2 separate regions of the Homo sapiens genome follow, and region 1 is linked to region 2. Evidence: fine-mapped expression QTL. A gene starts in region 2. The other region holds a variant in brackets. All regions are shown on one strand. Distances are from middle to middle.

Region 1 (4,387 bases), 190 kb before region 2:
AACAAAAAAAGAAAGAGAAGAAAGGAAATAAGGAAGGAGGGAGGGAGAGAGTGAAGGAGGGAAGAAAAGAGAATTAAACACGATTATCTACATATCAATGGAAAATTTCAAATATATTCTAGCATAATTTTTTTCTACTTAGTATCCATTAAAAAAGGGAATCATTGTGGAATGCTTAAATCAATCAAATGAACACAGCCATCCCTCGGATACTTATTTTTTTTTTTTTTTGTGGTGAGAACATTTGAAATTGATTCTCTTAGTAGTTTCGAAATGTGCCATATGTTAACTATAGTCACTGTGCTGTGTAATAGATCTCAAAAAGTACTCCTCTGCATCATATACATATATCATAACCTTGTATTATACCCCATAAATATGTATAATTATAATCTGTCCGTTAAAAATAAAAATTAAGCTTTAAAAAAGGGGATATGGTGCTTTCTAGAAAGGAATAGAAGTGCCTCCATGTCACCCAGAGGCCCGCCTGTGCAGAGACTGCAGCTGTGCTGCCTCCAGGTTGTGAGGTGACCCAAGCTGCCCCCATCACCTCCTGCCTCTTTGCTGCCCCCATCATCCCTCCCAGACCCTTCCTTCTCCTCTGCCCTTGTCCCCTCAGCAGCTCTGGTTTGCAGGGGGTATCACCATATAGGGCTGTCCTGGGTGCAAACACTGACTTGCTGCCTGCCTTTCAGCTGTTTGGTCTTGGGCAAGTCAGTGGCCCTCTGTGAACCTCACTTTTCCCTCCTATAAAGTAGGGTTAGGACAGTTCATCTCAATGAAGTACCATTAGATGGAACCAGTTAATCTTTACATGACTTTTTAAGCACTTCTTACCTGCTAAATAGATAGTAGCACTCATTGCTAGTCTATCTGGTCACAGAGGAAAGAGGCTGTATGACCTCAATGAGTCTCTCTTCCTTCAGGGCCACTGTTGCCCCTCTGCCCATGGAAGGGGCAAGGCCTCTTACTTCCAAGGGCATATTCTCCTCCAAGGCTTAGGGCCTTCTGGTGAGCTACTCCTACTCACTGAAAGAGTCACCAAGACCTTTAACCACCATGCTGTGGGGCTGTATAAGGGCTGGGAAGGTGCCTACTAGCTGCTGGGAATGAGGGCTGATCTGTCAATTACCACCTCAATGAGGAGATCCAAGACTATATAGCACAGCAGAAGAAAAGCACAGTTCCTGTGTCCTGCTGGTAGGACCTCAACTAAGTTCTGCACTGTGACCTGGGGCTGCCTCTGTAACCTTGGGGGTGCCTCTGTAACCTTGAATGATGCCTCTATAATCTTAGGTGGTGTCTCTATGGTCTGGGGGAGTATCCTGTGGTCTTTCCTCCAGTGCCTCAGTGTCCCCATCTGTTATGAAGATCAATGCGAGTTAACATAAGTAACTGAAATTACATTGTAAATCGATATTGTTTTCACTTCTGAATGTGTGTTGTGTTTGGTGAGTGGGTGAGAGTAGGGGACACACAGGACCACCCTGTAAAAGTGGAGGGTTGCAATGCAGCTGGAGTGACTGACCCTGCCAACCACACATCTGCCTGGTACCCTGGAGGACCATAGGTGGTGAGTGCTGTGACCAGATGCGGATGTTAGAACGGTTTTGGTTATCCCAGCACCAGCATGAGAATGGCCTGAGTGGGCTGAGACTCATGATCAGGAGGCCCTTGTTTGGAGCCTGCATGGTAACTGCAGTGAAATTGATGAGGCCAGAACCAGGTGGAAAAGAAAAGACAGTTCCTAGAGGGGCTGAGCATGTAGACTCCACTGGGAGGAGGCGATAAGGATGATAGGATTTCTGGTTTGGACAATGGAGGGAGTGGTGGAAACATTCCCTGAGGAAAGAAAGAACATGGTGTACGAGTGAAAAGGAGCACTGGGGGACAGTAATGGCTTCATTTTGGGACTTGCTAAGCTCGTGAAACCTTGAAACACTGAAGTTTATAGATGTTGCTGCAATTCAGCAGCAAGTTTCCCATGAAAACTGAGGCCCAGCCCATGGCACCGCAGGCACACTGCGCAGGAGGTGAGAGGCTGTGGAGGCCCT[C/T]CTGGGCAGGAAGCAAGCTGCCCTGGGACAGGGGGACAGGGGGACAGTGGGGCGAGGGGAGGAGGGGTCAGGTGGAAGTCAGGAGTCAGATGTTTGGTGGGGACATAACTGGCAGTAGTTTGGGCTCCTGTGCCCCTTAAAGGACACCCCTGGTACTTCCATCCAGGCTGAGAGCCCCATCATTTTGAAAAAACAGTGTCCAGACTGCATCAGGAACCAAGTAGCTTGACCCAGAGACGGTGAAGGTGGCTGTGTTTGCTGAGCATTTCCCCTGGGCAGCAGCTCACATCTAGTAACTCATTCATTTGTGGTTACAACCCTAGGAGAGACAGTCATTTAATATCACCATTTTATAGATAAGGAAACTGAGGCTCAGAGAAGGGGAGTGGCTTGCCCAAAGTCACACAGTGTAGTCTGGCTGCTTTACTGTGTCCCATTTTTGACATACACTCATAGCCAATTGTTAGTGTCAGCTGCTGGGTGTGTTCAACTCTTCTCTGGTTTCTGGCAATATAAGGGGGCCCTGATGTTATTCTCTAACCAGCGTTGGCTCCCCGGGAGGTGTGCAGAGGGCTGTGTGGTCTCGCACCACTAGGGAGCATGCCAGTGAGCATGGAGGGCATCCCTTCTTACCAGGCAGGACAGTCACTGTGTAGGAGCCAACCTGTCCGGCTTTCCTCTCGGCTCACCTCTCCCTCCTACTCCATCTTCTCCCTGCACTGGAGGAAAAGAACTCCTTTCCTGAGGCCTGGATCCAAGGGCCTCAGAGCAAAGGTGCTGATGGATTAATTTACCCCACAAACGCAATGGTCCATGTGTCATCTACAGAGAGACATTATGCTTATTAGAGATCATGAACAAGGGCAATGCGTAACACAAAGATCTTTAAAATTAGAGTTTCTCAGAGTAGTTAAGGGACTTGCCTGAGGACACACAGTGTCAGGCTGAGTGAGGTTTAGAACTCAGAACTGTTTCTTCACTAGCCTAAGCTGTGTCTCCAGCAATCATGGCCAAAACAAAACCAAAACCAAAAAGGATATCTTAGAGACCACAGTCATTTTCAAACTTGGACGTGTGTCGGAATCACCAGGAAAGTTAATAGACTACAGAGGCCCCAGCTCTTTGAAGTGAGAACTGGGCCTGGACTTTGGAATTCTTGTCACATTTCTCAAGAGAATCTGATGCTCACCCAAGTTTGAGAACTACGATGGACGGGTAAGAATCATCTTAAATGTTTTGGCTTCTTAGACTGTTTTTCCAGGCTGCCACCGTTGGCTGTCAGGTACAGTCCTGGAGTATCAGAGGAGGCCCGTAAATAGTTGTTGAATGAATACATGATTGAAAGAACAAATATACACAGCTGACTTAGTTAATACCGCAGGTTTCCAATCTACTGCCTCGTGGAGGCATATCCTTGCTAGACCGGAATATAGTTTTGGTCCTGTTTTCAAAGTAACCACACAACAAAGAGCCTATTAATATTATGAATAGTCAGTTGTATTTTGATAGTAATAGAAAAGCCAGTAGACTTGAACAGGAAAAAATAGGCAAATAATTTAAAAGATGAGATGTTAATTTTTTAGTTATAGGTTTTTTGAATCACGATTTCAGTTTTGAATTTTTTAATGTGATTTGGCCAGTGGTTTTAAAATGTGTATTAGAATGGGCCATAATATGTAGTCAGTTGGAATCTCAGAAAACCTGGCACGTTTTAAGGTTTCACAATTTTATTTTGGCCATTTTTATGTTAATTTTTTTTTAGTAAACTCCTGTCACCCAGGGAGATATTTGTTGAAGTGTTGACTGGAGGTTGGCTGTCCGGTATTTTGTTGTTTTAGTTTGGGATGATTTATTTTTTATTGCAAGAATTTAGTAAAGCAGGCAGAGTTCAAAAGACAGAGCCTTTTTAATTTAGGCCTTTAAAATTATGGACTTTATTTTTATGCTAAGTCTGAAATGTCATGGGACTGGAGTGGCGCTGGAAGGAGTAAGACCGGGAGAAGGGGGAGGAGAGGCGGGGACGGAAGAAAACACAAGAGTTGACTTTGTAAGTTTTTTTAATGTGTTTTTAAATTTTTTTTTAAGTTTATGGAGTCCTTTTGTTTCCATTGAGTGTGTAGATCAATTAGTTTGGGGATTTTTTACAAGGCTTTTTTTGTGCCCGTTAAAGTCTTTAATTTTTCTTGGGCCAGATATTGTTACACAGACCAAAAATATAGCCAGCCAGATAAACAAAAACTAGAATTAGACCAGACTGAGTATTTTAGTGGAGGTAGGTTTTTAGTATTAGCTTCATTTTTGGAGAACTCAAGTCTAAATTATATTTGGGACTT
Region 2 (4,387 bases):
TTTTTTGCTTTGTTTGTTTGCTTGTTTTGTTTTGTTTTTTGAGACAGTCTTGCTCTGTCACCCAGGTTGCAGTGCAGTGGCGCGATCTCGGCTCACTGCAACCTCTGCCTCCAGGGTTCACGCCATTCTCCTGCCTCAGCCTCCCGAGTACCTGGGACTACAGGTGCCCGCCACCATGCCTGGCTAATTTTTTATATTTTTAGTAGAGACGGGGTTTCACTGTGTTAGCCAGGGTGGTCTCGATCTCCTGACCTTGTGATCTGCCCGCCTCGGCCTCCCAGAGTGCTGGGATTACAGGTGTGAGCCACCGTGCCCAGCCTGGGATTTGTTTTTAAGCATCAATAAATTAATGAGAAGAAAATGACTGACATTTATTGGGCAGTCCTTACATGCCCCCCACATACCCTGCCCTTTAATTTTACATATATGATTTTAGTAATCCTCATGTATCAATTAGTATACAACTTGACTCCAACAAAAGAAAATTCAGACTAACTACAGTTTAAACAATAAAATATTAAATTATTTCATGTAATGAGAAGTCTGAATGGTGGCTCCAACAACAACATGAAGTCCCAACGACTCAGACCTTTTTTTTGCTTCCACTCTGCCATCCTCAATTTGTTGACTTTTTATTCTCAGCCTCATATACCCAAAATGGCTGCTGCAGCTCCAACCATCACATTTGCACACAAGGAAAGAAAAGAATGAGTAGATGGTCATTCTCTTCCTGAGGAAGGGAATCTTTTCTAGAAGACCCTAGCAGGTTTCCCTTATGTCTCATTGGCCGGAATTGGATCAGAGGCACATCCCCAGGTCAGTAAATGGAGAAATCATGAGCACCATCTCTTCTGGGGTCATGTCTATAGGGATCATAAACCTCTTCCATGAACACAAGCCTGCTGCTACCTCCAAGCAGCCACACATGCTTCAGCATCCCTTGTTAATAAGCTACAGGAAAAGAGAAGAGAAGGAGTAACTGTCATTTAAACCTCAGTGTCGAGTATTCCTACTGAGACCTGGAGATGCTGAGAACTTGCCAAGGTGTGAGAGGAGTTGCAAGGAGGCCATTGTGGTTGGGCATGGTGCACGAAAGGGAGAGAGGAAGAAGTGTACAGGGAGCTGGCTGGCCCAGGGGCCACGCCAGGACTGGGGACTCTGTGCTGTGTGATGGGCAGGCTTTGGACAGTTGTATCCAGAAGATGATCTATACATGACGCTAGTTCAAGGATTGCTCTGAGATGTGTGGATGGTAGAAGGTGGGCAGGGAGGCTGGGTATCAGTCAGGAGGCTGTGGCAGCGGTCCCCATGGGGAGCACAGGGCTGGACTAGGACAGCCCATAGAAGACATCCCATCTCCTTTCTTGCCCAAGGAAGAGACTCAGTGGCAGCAGTGCAATAAGGGTACAGGCCAGGAAACCCAACCCCCCAGGGATAGCAAGCATCCAGAGACACGTGGGGACAGCTCCAGCACCAAACGGCTTCTGACCAATGAGCAGAGACGGCAAACAGCAAATGCGTTACCGTGGCTTTCACGTGTCATGAAGGTGATGCTGTAACCTGAGCCTCAGAGCTCATTTTATTTGTGAATTCCTATCATCTCTAGATGGGTGGACTGAAAGCCACCTCTTTCGCTTGCAGCTAGGTAGAGGGGAGTGCAAGAGGGCAAATGAAAACCAGAAGTAGGGTTGGGCGCAATGCCTCACGCCTGTAATCCCAGCACTTTGGGAGGCTGATGTGGGCGGATTACCTGAGGTCAGGAGTTTGAGACCAGCCTGGCCAACATGGTGAAACCTCGTCTCTACTAAAAATACAAAAATCAGCTGGGTGTGGTGGCACATGCCTGTAATCTCAGCTATTCAGGAGGCTGAGGCAGGAGAATTGCTTGAGCCTGGGAGACAGAGGTTGCAGTGAGCAGAGATCGCGCCACTGCACTCCAGCCTGGCCGACAGAGCGAGACTCTGTCTCAAAAAAAAAAAAAAAAAAAAAAAAAAAGAAAAGAAAAGAAAAAGAAAAAGAAAAGGAAAAAGAAAACCAGAAGTAGGAGCAGCCTGAAGAAATGACAGGGAGTTGATTTCCCACTGGGAGCCCTCTCAAAGCCCACACACCCGCCTGCCTGGGGTAACAGTATCTCCTCGGACATCCTGCACCCTCCCATGCTCCCCCCTCCCTACAGTAGTGAAAGACCTAGGCAGGATGACCCCAGCTCCTCTGTGAGAATTTCACACCCTAGTGTGAAGTCATAGCCTTGTAACTTTCCCTTTAAGAACTGTCAGAGCTGGGGAGGCTGGCCAAGCTCAGGCTGGAGGTGGGGACAGAGGGAAGAAAGAAAAAAAAAAAAGAGAGAGAGGCAGGAAAAGTTTTTTCAGAGGAAAATGCAGGGTTTGTCCTTCACCCTGACGTCAGATCTTGCTTTAATAAAACCCCCCAAGGGCTGCGGAAGAGGCATATCTGGTGCTCCTGATGGGCCGGCCAGTCTGGGCCCAGCTCCCCCGAGAGGTGGTCGGATCCTCTGGGCTGCTCGGTCGATGCCTGTGCCACTGACGTCCAGGCATGAGGTGGTTCCTGCCCTGGACGCTGGCAGCAGTGACAGCAGCAGCCGCCAGCACCGTCCTGGCCACGGTGAGTCCTGCCTGGAGGGGCTCAGAGGGAGACCCAGCTCCCTTCTCTACTGGGTCCTGCTACATGGGGGCTGGTGGGCAGGATGAAAAGGGCCAGGAAGGTTTGGGGCTGGAAGGTGGCCACTTACAGGGCAAGGACAGAGCCCAGGGTGAGGAGTCAGCTGCCCAGGTTGGCTGAAGCTGGCAGGGTGAGGAGGACGGTGCGACACTTGGGGAAACAAACTGCACAGGTCCAGCCTGCCCTCTCTCCCCACCTGAAACAGTGCAGAAAGAACGGGGCCCTCAGCAGAACTGGGAGTCAGGGGCCCGGGCTCCAGACCCGTCTTCGCCTAACCTGGCTGTGTGGCCTCGGGTGGGTCACTCACCCTCCAGGAGCAGCGTAAAGCGACGAAGTTGTTAGGTGACTTCTAGAGTCTCTGAGTTTGAAAACTCCAAGACTCCAAGCATTGGAGATGCTGCGAAGATGGGAGATGGAAAAAGCCAAAAAAAATTGGAAAGAAAAATGCCAGCTTTCAACAAAAGCTCCTTATTGAGCAAACAGTGCTCAGGGTGATGTCTAACCCCAACTGCTGTCACCTCCGGTCTGCACAGCCCTCTGCAGTCTGCAGAGTGTCCATACTTGGGTCCTGCCTATGAAGCCTGCTGTTCCAGGGTGGGGGTGATGTGGGCACCCCAGAGTCTCTCTCTCTTCCACCTGCACCCCAGGGTACACCAAGGGGAAGGGACAAAGGTCTGCACCTCCAAAAGCCAGGGGAGTCACATATGTGACCGTGTAGAGCCAGCCTGCTAGGGCCAGGCATGGTGAGGAAAAGGCAGAGGCAGGCAGTGCAAGGAGGGCAGGAGGTGGGTACCTGGCAGCTTCTGAGCCCCAGATTCCACAGCCCAGGGCAGGACCTGCTCCTGGCAGAACAGCCTAGAGACGGAGGGGTGATGGCAAAAGAGTGTTTATCCCCAAATGACACTGATGGCTTCCTTGGGGGTTAAGAAGCCCCCTTCACAGATAAGGAAACCGTGTGTTGGGGTTAAACCACTTGCCAGAATCAGACTCTAGGTCTGCTTCAGCCAGAACTGAGGCCGAGAGCCGACAGCAAACTGAGACCTGGGAAATAGGAATTCCTCTCAATGCCTCGGTGTGTGTAATGATGGCGGGGAGTGGGTCTGTTTCATCTTGGTTAAATCCTCACGCCTGGCATGGTGCCTGACTATAGTTGGTTCAGAACCACCTTACCAGAAAGTTATCAGCTCCATTTCACAAATGAAAGAAATGGAAAGTGAGAGCAAGTAAAGGACTTGCCCAGGAGCTCCTCATTAATAAGTGGCCAGGGCCCAAACTTAGATCTTCTGATGCCAATTTCTAACCATTCCTACTTAGGGGAAGCTGACTGTGTCCTACAGGAGTGCCCAGAAGGAGCTAAGTCGCTGTTTATTTCGGCTCTGGGTATGGCTGCGCCTTTATTTGGGTATAGCTTTGCAGGTTGCTATGTCTGGGAGGGCAGGGAGAGGATGGAGAAAAGGTGAGCGTTTGAGAGAAGCCAAAGTCTGAGTGGGCAGAGGAGGCGAGAGGTTTAAGCATGAGTCCAAGTACTCTGGAGCCCCAGTCAGCTCCCAGAACAGCCGGTGCTGAGGAGGAGTGAAGGACAGAGCCGAGGACTCAGCCAGAGGAGACCAGCAAAGGAGCAGAGCGTGTGGAGGGACCCAGGGAGCAGGTTGGAGGGAAGGCTCCCGGGACCAGCACAAGGTACCTCTCTTCTAGGCAGCCCCTGCCT

The links. PIP is the estimated chance that this variant, and not a neighbour inherited with it, causes the effect.
Region 1: its variant is the best candidate, but not a certain one, in a credible set for the expression of CCN4 in lung (TOPMed, PIP 0.51).

Annotation. Positions count from the first base shown.
Region 1 is chr8:133,003,195-133,007,581 of GRCh38, forward strand. All of the region lies in intron 35 of TG (thyroglobulin), which reads left to right. Among named protein-coding and RNA genes, the nearest start is that of MIR7848, 41 kb to the right of the region's middle. The variant C/T (reference allele first, on the strand shown) is at 2,055.
Region 2 is chr8:133,188,592-133,192,978 of GRCh38, forward strand. It overlaps CCN4 (cellular communication network factor 4), which reads left to right and starts at 2,448. Exons shown (of 5, transcript NM_003882.4): 1 at 2,448-2,622. The coding sequence starts at 2,554. RefSeq lists a silencer at 3,320-3,567.